2 separate regions of the Homo sapiens genome follow, and region 2 is linked to region 1. The links come from fine-mapping of genetic effects on gene expression. A gene starts in region 1. The other region holds a variant in brackets. All regions are shown on one strand. Distances are between the middles of the regions. Region 1 holds the start of CYREN (cell cycle regulator of NHEJ). Region 2 has its middle 9.1 kb from the start of TMEM140.

Region 1 (5,383 bases):
GAAACACACACATGGATGCAAGAGGAAGGGAACCTCGGGCTGAGGCTGTACTGAGAGGAACCTGAAAGCAGGACCAGACTTAGGGAAAGACGGCAGCAGTCACAAGGGAAGGCTGTCAGTCAGGAAACCTTAGAGGAGGAGGAGCCAGAGAGGGAAACACCGAGTGCTGGGGCCCCGCCCACTTCACAGTGCAGCCTGGAGACTCACCACCCCCCCCCCGCCCCCCCCCGGCAATTACCGTCATTCAACTAACTCACTCCCCAGCTCCTTAGCTCTTGCTGGCCCTGCAGCTGCTGCTCATCTGTCCATCCCTAAAGGTCTGTCCACAGGGGCAGGCACCACTCAGAACAGACCCTTCCACTGATCTTGCCCATCTGATGTTACCATGTTTGTTGTAAAGGAAGAGACTGGCATTCTGGACAACTGGCATCAGAGACTGGCTGACATGGAGAACCCACTCTGTGTGTGCTGAGGGCAGGGCACTCACCAGTGCAGAGGCAGAAGTGGGTGCCTGTCCTCGAGGGTTAACCCGCTTTGCCTCCCGCCCACAGCCCCTCCACCTTCTAAAAGCTCAAGAGATGATCAGACTGAAACACCCGCCCATCTTGCTGTTCTGCCTAGGCTGGAAGACCTGGCCCAGGTCATGGAGGCCCCTGCTCCACTTGCCAGATTCGCAGGAGTCTTCTGACCAGAGCTGTCGCACCTTGCTGCTGCCACTGGCACTGCTGCCATTCTCATCCTCTTGGGGGCCTTCATTGGTGCCACATTCTTTGTAGCCACCTGGGCTGTCAGCCATGAGGGAAGGACCCTCGTTTTAGTCTCGGATTGTAAGGTTTCCATCTCTGTACCTTCTCACAAAGAAGAGTCAGGGCCCAAGCTTAATGACCTGTTTTTTAATTCAGGAAGGTAAATCTCGTTCTCTCGTCACACCCGGAATTACAGGTCCATTTGTCCTCAGTGGGAGTTGATCTTTGATTCCTACAAAGAACAATAAAGTCCGGTGAATTCCCATACCTCCAGTCATCAGGCACAGTTACTGGTCGGTGCAGGGCAGGCCAGAAGTGACCAAGGCCCAAGAGACTCAGACGGCCATTCACAGGCATCAGGCAGGTGTGATTGTGGGCAGGACAGCAGCTCAGGAGAGAGCCCTCTGACCTCCCCAAAGCTGGTGCCCCCTACAGGCAGCCAAAGCCAACCAGAGATACCTCCTGCAGCCTCTGTGCTGACTGACTCAGCACAGGAGGAACGGAAGGAGGCGGAGGCCCCTAATGTTCCTTCTCATTACCACCCCAAATGCCACTGTCCTCTGGGTGCCCAGCCCATTCAATCCCTAAAATACCTCTTAATGGCCTCTCCCTCATCTGGCCAACTCGATTTCTCTACTCTTCTATGGTGGCTCAGTTAAATGAAACTGAGGGCATTTTATTTCACAATAAAGTCTCATTGGCCAACACGCCGCCCTTAAGCTAAAGATACTTCTGATTGGTCAAACTTGAAGCAGCAATAGGGGCCCGGAGGCATTAACTGTGCCAGTCTGTAGATTCTGAAGCCCACGCCAGCCTCTGATCTAGTTTGGCCTCTCTTTTCCCTATCCCAATTGTTCTGCCTCCACTCAGCAGTCCTGGAGCTCAGTCCTCACCCAGAGAGATGGAGTTGTGACTCAGAGGGCCTAGGTCTCTACCTTCCACTTAGGAATCAAGCCAGAAGCTCCTGAAGCGGAGGTTTGCCCAAAAAAAAGAGTAGTCAGCGATAGTCCTCTCTGAATCATAATTTGATAATGCATTGCTCATCCAGATGGCTGTTTACAATTTAAGAAAAAATATTACCAGGCCCTCCTCCTAACCTGCCCGGCCATGGGGCACACCTTTGCCAATGCACCTTCATTTCTGTCAAAACTCAGTGATATTAGTGACTCCTACCCCCTAAGGCGCCTCCCAAGCGCAATGCTGCAGTCTGTGCGGACAAATTTAGTTCACCCTGGGGTGCCTATTAAGTACATTTCGCAAACGAGGAACTGAGACTTAGTTAACTTGCAGAAGATCACAGAAAAGTTTGAAATCAGCTGGTTGGATTCGCAGCCAGGTCCTGCAGACTCCAGACCCCGCGCCTCCCCGCCCTACTTCTGGGCCCCAAGAGCAGGCCGCGGCAACTTCCAGAAGCCGGGTCTCTGGGGCACCGCGCTCGCGGACCGACCTCAGTCCCATCCCAGCCGCTCCCTGCCTGGGCAGAATGGGGGCCCCGCGGGAACGCGATGTGCTGCCAGTTCACAGCCCGCCCTCCCTCTGCGGGCCGGTACCCGCCGCTGGCGGCGCCGACCTGTGGGAGGCCCAGAGGGCGGGTGAGTGCGGAGCGGAAGGCGCGGGCGAAGCACCGCAGGGGCCTCGCTGACCCCGCCACACGCCGGGCAGGGCTGCAACGGCTCCTTCCGACTGGAGCGGCCGCGCGCTCCTCCGGCCGGCTACTGGCTTCCCTGCTCTCAGGTTCCCGTCTCCGGCTCTCGTGCCCCTTCTTAGCTTCCAGAGCGGAGCCGGGAGGCAAATTCCAAGCGGTTGTGGGACCCACGCCTCACCCGGAACTTTAAGCCCTGCCGTCTCGCCTGGCGCCCAAACTCTGCGGACCTCCACTGGCCGCCCGCCTCTTCCGGCCCCGCGCGCTCCGGGGTCCCGCGGGCTCCCGGCCTCGGGACACTTCCGGTCTTGGGGAACTCCCGGCCCCCTCGCAGTCCCGGCGCCCGGGACACTTCCGGCTCCCGGCAGCTGCCTCAGTCGGAGGTCCGCGGGCGCCCCATGCTGGCAGTGGTAATGCCGCCGGCTGGCATCCGGTTGGCTGCGCGCTGGGAACGCCAGCGAGGCAGCGCCACCGGCTTGAGGAGGGTGAAAGTTCAATTCTTGGCCCCTGAAGTTAGCGGAAGGGAACGGGCATGTTTTGGAAAGGCCCGCCGGGAATTCCCTCAGAAACCAGGCGAAGCTCCCTGCTGGGCCAGGCCCCCCTCGTGTGCTTGAGGAGGATGGGAGCCCGGCCTCGGTTTGTTATCCTAATTAAGTGGAAAATTAAGAAAATAATAGAATAGCGTAAGTACTAATAGTAAAATTATAGTAAGAGAAATAACAATAGCTAGAATGGAATGAATTGCTGTATTAACCAAGGCTAGAAAGAATTTCAGCCCTCCGAAAGTTAAAGCGAGGGAAGAGAGAGACCCTCTCATATTGTTTTATACTCAGTACCTGTTTTTTTTTTTTTTTTTAAAAAAAAAAGGAAGTGAAATCAAAGACAGGCAGCCCAGCGCCAGGCCCAAAACTGGACCTGGGCCTGCCTGGCCTAAACCTAGTAGTTAAAAATCAACTCATGACTTAGAAACCGATGTTATTCATAGATTCCAGACATTCTATAGAAGAACATTGTGAAACTCCCTGCCCTGTTCTGTTTCTCCCTGACCATCGGTGCATGCAGCCCCTGTCACGTACCCCTTGCTTGCTCAAATCAATCACGACCCTTTCATGTGAAATTTTAGTGTTGTGAGCTCTTAAAAGCGACAGAAATTGTGCACTCGGGGAGCTCGGATTTTAAGGCAGTAGCTTGCCAATGCTCCCAGCTGAATAAAGCCCTTTCTTCTACAGCTCCGTGTCTGAGAGGTTTTGTCTGTGGCTTGTCCTGCTACAGTCCTTGGTTCCCTGACCAGGAAGCGAGGTGACTGACAAGCCCTGTGGAGCGTCCCTGCAGAGGACTCCGGCCAGCCTGACTGACGCAATCCAAAGAGCGCTCCCGGGTAGGAAATGGCCCCGGTGGAATGCCTTGCCAGAGCAGCGCATAGCAGGCTCCCGAGAAGGATTAACACTGGCTGAACACCGGGAAGGAACTGGCACTTGAAGTCCAGACATCTGAAGCTTGTCAAGACTAGTTTTTGGAACTTGCCCCACTCCATGTGAGTGGAAGCATGGCCTGATCACCCACGGTGTGCCTGTATTGACATCTTTGTTCTGGTTTTGACTTGGCTTGACTTGGTAAGACTAGTCTTTGGAACTTGCCCCACTCCACGTGAGTGGAAGCGTGGCCTGATCACCCACGGTGTGCCTGTATTGGCACTTTTGTTCTGGTTTTGACTTGGCTTGACTTGGTAAGACTAGTCTTTGGAACTTGCCCCACTCCATCTGAGTGGAAACGTGGCCTGATCACCCACAGCATGCCTGCATGGGCACTCTTGTTCTGGTTTTGACTTGACTTGAATTGCTGGATACTTTGGTTTTGGTTTTGACTTGGCTTGAATTTTTTGGTACTCGGATTTTGAATTTCGTGATTTTGGTTTGGTATAAACGGTAAAAGTGTGTGTGCCCTCTTTACCTGTTCTTTGTCTTGTGGTATGTGTGGTGTGAGCGTGGTATTTTGTCTGGAAAAAAAAAAAAAAAAACATGGGTCAGGTGCAAAGTAAGCCCACCCCACTGGGACCTATGTTAAAAAAATTTTTTTTCAAGAGAGAATTTAAAGGAGATTACGGTGTTAGTATGACACCAGGAAAACTTAGAACTTTGTGTGAAATAGACTGGCTAGCATTAGAGGTAGGTTGGCCACCAGAAGGAAGCCTGGACAGGTCCCTTGTTTCAAAGGTATGGCACAAGGTAACCTGTAAGCCAAAGCACCCAGACCGGTTTCTGTACATAGACAGTTACAGCTGGTTTTAGACCCCCTTTCCCCCACCACAGTAGTTAAGAGAACAGCAGCATAAGCGGCTGGCAGAGCCAAGGAACGACCAGAAAAGAGAAAAAGAGGCCATCTGTACCAATTCTAAGAGTTTAGACTAAACAAGTTCTTATTAATAGCAAAGGATAATTGAAATCTCAAACTTACAAGGTTTTCAACAAAAGTGAAGTTTGCTAAAAGTTAACAGTGTAACATGTATTTTGGTAACTTCTAATCTTGTGGCCTTAGACAGTCTAGTCCAAAGACATAAAGAAAGTTCGCTTTTTTAAAAAGGAAAGAAAAGGGGGGAGGCAGAATTTATATTAAAAAAAAGTTATATGGTAAATTCTTGTCCTGAAATAAATTAACTGGTTGTTTAAAGAAAAAAAAGTTTGTTAATCAGTCAAAAAATTGAGACATGTTAAAAAATTGTCTGGGAAAGTCGTGAGAAAAAAATTATAAAAAAAAATTTTTATGCAAAAAATATTGTATAATTTAAAAGTAATGAGGCCTCCTGAGTACTATTTAAAAAAAAAAAACCAGTTCATGTGCAAGATGTATAAGAAAAGTAAAATATACCTTTGGTAAAAAAAAAAATTATAAAGGGGCATAAACGTGGATTTTTACCTACATTAAAAGGTTAAAAAAATTATTGTTTTAAAAGTTTAAGCAAGCTTTAAAACGTTAATTATAAAAAAAATTCTGTGTG
Region 2 (5,383 bases), 32 kb before region 1:
CTAAAGAGTTTCCAAGGAGAGCCCACTGCACTGTTAAAAGAGTAACTATTATGTTTTAAAGGACCATGACCATAGATTTCCTCAGGAATCTTTAATGTCTGGTGGGAAATAGCTATCTTCTAAATACATTAGATGGTGCTTTGAAGGCAAGTATCCTGGTTCTCAAAGAGTACCCCAACTTTTGGTATAAAATTCTCATCCTTAGTGATTATCTTGGGCAAGAGCAGAAGTCTACTTGCTTTTGGGATGCCCTCTGCCAGGTAGGTGCTCGGGCTTGGGAAAGCCAGAGGTTAATGTTCCGGATCATAGCATTTATTGTAGCTGACTTCAGGATGGAGTAAGAGTTCTCAAAATTCCATTGGCCCTTCTCCACAAAGATCAGGACAAAAGCCTAAACTCTGGGAAAATATTTTTAATTCAGTGAAATGTCATTTGAATCTTCGACTGCCTAAGAGTTTGAAATTGTAAACTCTGGAATGTATTGTCTTTGTGGATGACCAAAAAAGGTGATAAACCAGTTTCCTGGAAGATTTAGGGATGCACAGATATTACCTAAACAATTTTACCTTGGTCCATAATTGCACTCCTTGTATTTGATACAAATATAAGATGCTTTACCCAAAGTAAGAGGATTGGCAGTCCACTTCCTCACTATGCTACAATACTTTCAGTTTTCTGAGCATGCCACTCTCTCATAAAAGCTATTTATTCTCTCAGCCCAGCATCTCCTCCACCTGGCAGCCCCTACTTCTTTAAGATTCAACTCAACTGCTGCCTTCTCTGGCAAACCTTCCATATATTTCCATAGAAATTTAAAACAACTACGATGAATATGCTGACAGTTCTAATGGGAAAATTGGACAATGCAAGAACAGATGGGTAATATAAGCAGAGAGATGGGAACTAAGAAACAAAAAAAAAATGCTAGAAATCAAAAACACTGTAACAGAATGAATGATGATGGACTACCCAACAGGTAAGACACAACTGAGGAAAGAGTCAGTATGCTTAAAACAATGTCAATAGAAACTAGCAAAACTTAAATGCAGAGCAAAAAAGAATGAAAAATTCAGAATATCCAAAAACTGCAGGACAATTTTAAAAGGTATGTAACGTGTAATGGGACTACTGGAAGTAAAGGAAAAAAAGGAACACAAGAAATATTGAAGCAGTAATGACGGAGAATTTCTCAAAATGAACGACACCAAACCACAGATCCAGAAAGCTCACAGAATACCAGGAATGATAAATACCAAAAAAATCAAAGACCAAGAAAAAATCTTGAAAAAAACACCTTATGTATAGATAAGCAGGGATAAGAATTACATCAGACATCTCTTCAGAAACCATGCAAGAAAGAAGAGAGTGGAGTGAAACATTTAAAGGGTTTAAAGAACCACTGTCTCAGCTCAGGCTGCTGTAACAAAATACCATAAACTAGGCTGCTTAATGAAACAATAGAAATTTATCTCAGTTCTGAGGCTGGGAAGTCCAAGATCAAGATGTCAACAGATCCAGTGTCCAGTGAGGGCAGTCATCTTGGTTTGCAGGTGGCCTTCTTGTTGTATCCTCGCATGGTAGGGAGAGATCATCCCACGTCTCTTCTTATGATCACTAATCTCATTCATGAGGGCTTCACCCTCATGACCTAATTACCACCCAAAGGTCCTGTCTTCTAATACGATCACACTAGGGGTTAGGATTGCAACATATGAAATTTGGGGGATGCAACATCAGACCATAACAACCGCTGACTACAGTTCTGTATCCAGTGAAATTGTCCTCCAAAAGTGAAAGAGAAATGGACTTTTTCAGACAAACAAAAATTGTGGGAATTTGTCATCTCTAGAGCTGCTCTTTTTTTTAATGTTAAAAGAAATTCTTTAGAAAGGATGAAAATTATACAGGTCAGAAATTCTGGCCTACGTAAACAAAGGGAAAGCAATAGAAAAGGAATAAATGAAGGTAAAATAAAATCTTTTATTTTTCTTAATTACCTAACAGATAATAGTTTGTTCAAAACAATAACAGTGTATTCAGAAATTATAGCTTATTGATAAGTGAAATGAATAGCAGCAATGTTGTAAGGAATCGGAGGGAGGAATTGGGAATACCCTGTTACAAAATACTTGTACTACCAAAGAAGCAAGTGGTATAGGGTTATTTGAGAAAGGATTGGATTCATTGTAAATGTATCCTGTAAATTCAAGGGTAAAAAAGAGGTAGAATTGATATACTAAAATAGGAAAAAAATCAAATCATACAAAATATTCAATTAAAATAGAAGGAGGTAGAAAACAAGTGGAAGACAAAATAATAAAGGTTTGTTACATGGGTAAATTGCATGTTGTGGGCATTTGGTGTACAGATTATTTCATCATTCATGTAATAAGCATAATACACAATAGGTAGATTTTCGATCCTCACCCTCCTCCCACCCTTCACCCTCAAGTAGGCCCTAGTGTCTATTGTTCCCTTCATTGTGTCCATGTGTACCTAATGTTTAGTTCCCACTTATAAGTGAGAACTTGTGGCATTTGGTTTTCTGTTCCTGCATTAATTTGCTTAGGATAATGACCTCCAGCTTCACCCATGTTGCTGTAAAGGACACTATTTCATTCTTTTATATGGCTGCATAGTATTCTATGGTATATGTGTACCACATTTTCTTTATTCAGTCCACCATTGATGGTCATCTAGGTTAATTCTATGTCTTTGCTACTGTGAATAGTGCTACAGTGAACATACACATGCATGTGTCTTTATGGTAGAACAATTTATATTCCTTTGGATATATACTGCATAATGGGATTGCTGGGTCAGATGA[T/C]AGTTGTGTTTTAAGTTCTTTGATAAATCCCCAAACCACTTTCCAAAGTGACTGAACTAATGTACATTCCTGCCAACAGTGTGTAAGCATTCCCTTTCCTCTGCAACCTCACTAGTTTTTTTTTACTTTAACAATAGCCATTCTGACTGTTGTGAGATGGTATCTCATTGTGATTTTGATTTGCATTTATCTAATCATTAGTGATGTTGAGAATTTTTTCATATGCTTGTTGGCCATGTGTATGTCTTCTCTTGAGAAGTGTCTATTCGTGTCCTTTGCCCTTTTTTTTTTAATGAGGTTGTTTTTTGCTTGTTACGTTTTTTATAGATTCTTAATATTTGACCTTTCTTAGATGCATAGTTTACAAATATTTTCTCCCCTTCTATAGGCTGTTTACTGTGCTCAAAGTTTCTTCTGCTGTGCAGAAGCTCTTTAGTTTAATTAGGTCCCACTTGTAATTTTTGTTTTTGTTGCAATTGCTTTTGTAGTCTTTAACGTGAAATATTTGCCAGGGCCTATGTCCAAAATGGTATTTTCCAGGTTTTCTTCTATGCTTTTTATAGTTTTAGGTTTTACATTTAAGTCTTTAATCCATCTTGAGTTGATTTTTGTATATGGTGAAAGGAAGGGGTCCAATTTCAATTTTCTGCATATGACTAGCCAGTTATTCCAGCACCATTTATTGAATAGGGTGCTCTTTCCCCATTGCTTGTTATTGTTGACTTTGTCAAAGATCAGATGGTTGTAGGGTACAACATTATATATGGGTTCTTTAACCTGTTTCATTAGTCTGTTTTTGTACCAGTACCATGTTGTTTTGGTTACATAGCCTTGTAGTATAGTTTGAAGTCAAGCAGTGTGATGCTTCCAGCTTTGTTCTTTTTGCTTAGGATTGCTTTGGCAATTCAGGCTCTTTTTTGGATCCACATGAATTTTAGAATAGTTTTTTTTTTCTAATTCTGTAAAAAATATTGTAGTTTGATAAAGAATACATTGAATCTGTACATTGTTTTGGGCAGTAAGTCCATTTTAACAATATCGATTCTTCCTATCCATGAGCATGGAATGTTTTTCCATTTATTTGTGTCATTTCTTATTTTTTTCAGCAGTGCTTTGTAATTCTCATTGTAGACATCTTTCACGTCCCTGGTTAGTTGTATTCGTAGGTATTTTTATCTACTTGTGGTTATTATGAATGGGATTGCATTCCTGATTTGGTTCTCAGCTTGGACATTATTGGTGTATAAGAATGCTATTGATTTTTGTACATTGATTTTGTATCCTGAAACTTTGCTGAAGTTGCTTAGCAGATCTAGGAGCCTTTGGGCAGAGACTATGGGGTTTTCTAGGTATAGAGTCATATAATCTGCAGAGAGATAGTTTGACTTCATCTCTTTTTATTTGGACGCCTTTTATTTCTTTCTCTTGCCTAGTTGCTCTGGCTAGGACTCCCAATACTATGTTGAGTAGCAGTGGTGCAAGTGGACATCCTTGTTTTGTGCCCATTTTCAAAGGGAATGCTTCCAGCTTTTGCCCATTTAGTATGCTGTTGGCTGTAGGTTTATCATAGGTGGCTCTTATTATTTTGAGGTATGTTGCCTTGATCCCTAGTTTGTTGAGAGTTTTTAACATGAAGGGATGCTGAATTTTATCAAAAGCCTTTTCTGCATCTATTAAGATGATCAATAGATGCAGGAAAGATTGTTTATAGTTCTGTTTATGTGATGAATCACATTTATTGATTTGCATATGTTGAACCAACCTTCCATCCACCTTGAACATGGTGGATTAGCTTTTTGATGTGCTGCCGGATTCGGTTTGCTAGTATTTTGTTGAGGATTTTTTCCTCTATGTTCATCAAGGATATTGACCTGAAGTTTTCTTTTTTTCATTGTGCCTCTGCCAGGTTTTGGTATCAGGCTGATGCTGACCTTATAGACTGAGTTAGAGAGGAGTCCCCACTCCTTGATTTTTTGGGATAGTTTCAGTAGGTTTGCTACCTGTTTTTCTTTGTATGTCTGGTAGAATTCAGCCATGAATCTGTATGGTCCAGGGCCTTTTCTGGTTGGTAGGTTTTTATTACTGATTCAATTTCAGAACTTGTTATAGTATGTTCAGGATTTCAATTTCTTCCTGGTTCAATCTTGGGAGGTGGTATGTTTCTAGGAATTTATCCATTTCTTCTAGGTTTTCTAGTTTGTATGCATACAGTCATTCATAATTGTCTCTGAGGGTTTCTTATACTTTTGTGGGGTCAGTGGTAATGTCCCCTTTGTTATTTCTGATTGTGTTTATTTGGATCTTCTCTGTTTCTTCATTAGTCTAGCTAGTGGTCTATCAATTCTATTTATTCTTTCAAAAAACCAACTTTTGGTTTTGTTGATCTTTCGTATGTTTTTTTGTGTCTCAGTTTCATTCAGTTCAGCTCTGATTGTGCTTATTTATTTTCTTCTTCTAGCTTTGGGGTCGGTTCACTCCTGTTTTTCTAGTTCTTCTAGGTGTGGTGTTAGATTGTAAATGTGAGATCTTTCTTTTGGATGTTGGCATTTAGTGCTA

What was found. PIP is the estimated chance that this variant, and not a neighbour inherited with it, causes the effect.
Region 2: its variant is the best candidate, but not a certain one, in a credible set for the expression of CYREN in whole blood (INTERVAL, PIP 0.88).

Annotation. Positions count from the first base shown.
Region 1 is chr7:135,168,083-135,173,465 of GRCh38, forward strand. CYREN (cell cycle regulator of NHEJ) reads right to left here and starts at 2,625. Exons shown (of 4, transcript NM_024033.4): 1 at 2,570-2,625; 2 at 704-978. The coding sequence starts at 840. RefSeq lists enhancers at 936-1,065, 3,146-3,365 and a silencer at 2,156-2,765.
Region 2 is chr7:135,136,309-135,141,691 of GRCh38, forward strand. It overlaps a transcript of CYREN not described here. Among named protein-coding and RNA genes, the nearest start is that of TMEM140, 9.1 kb to the right of the region's middle. The variant T/C (reference allele first, on the strand shown) is at 2,828.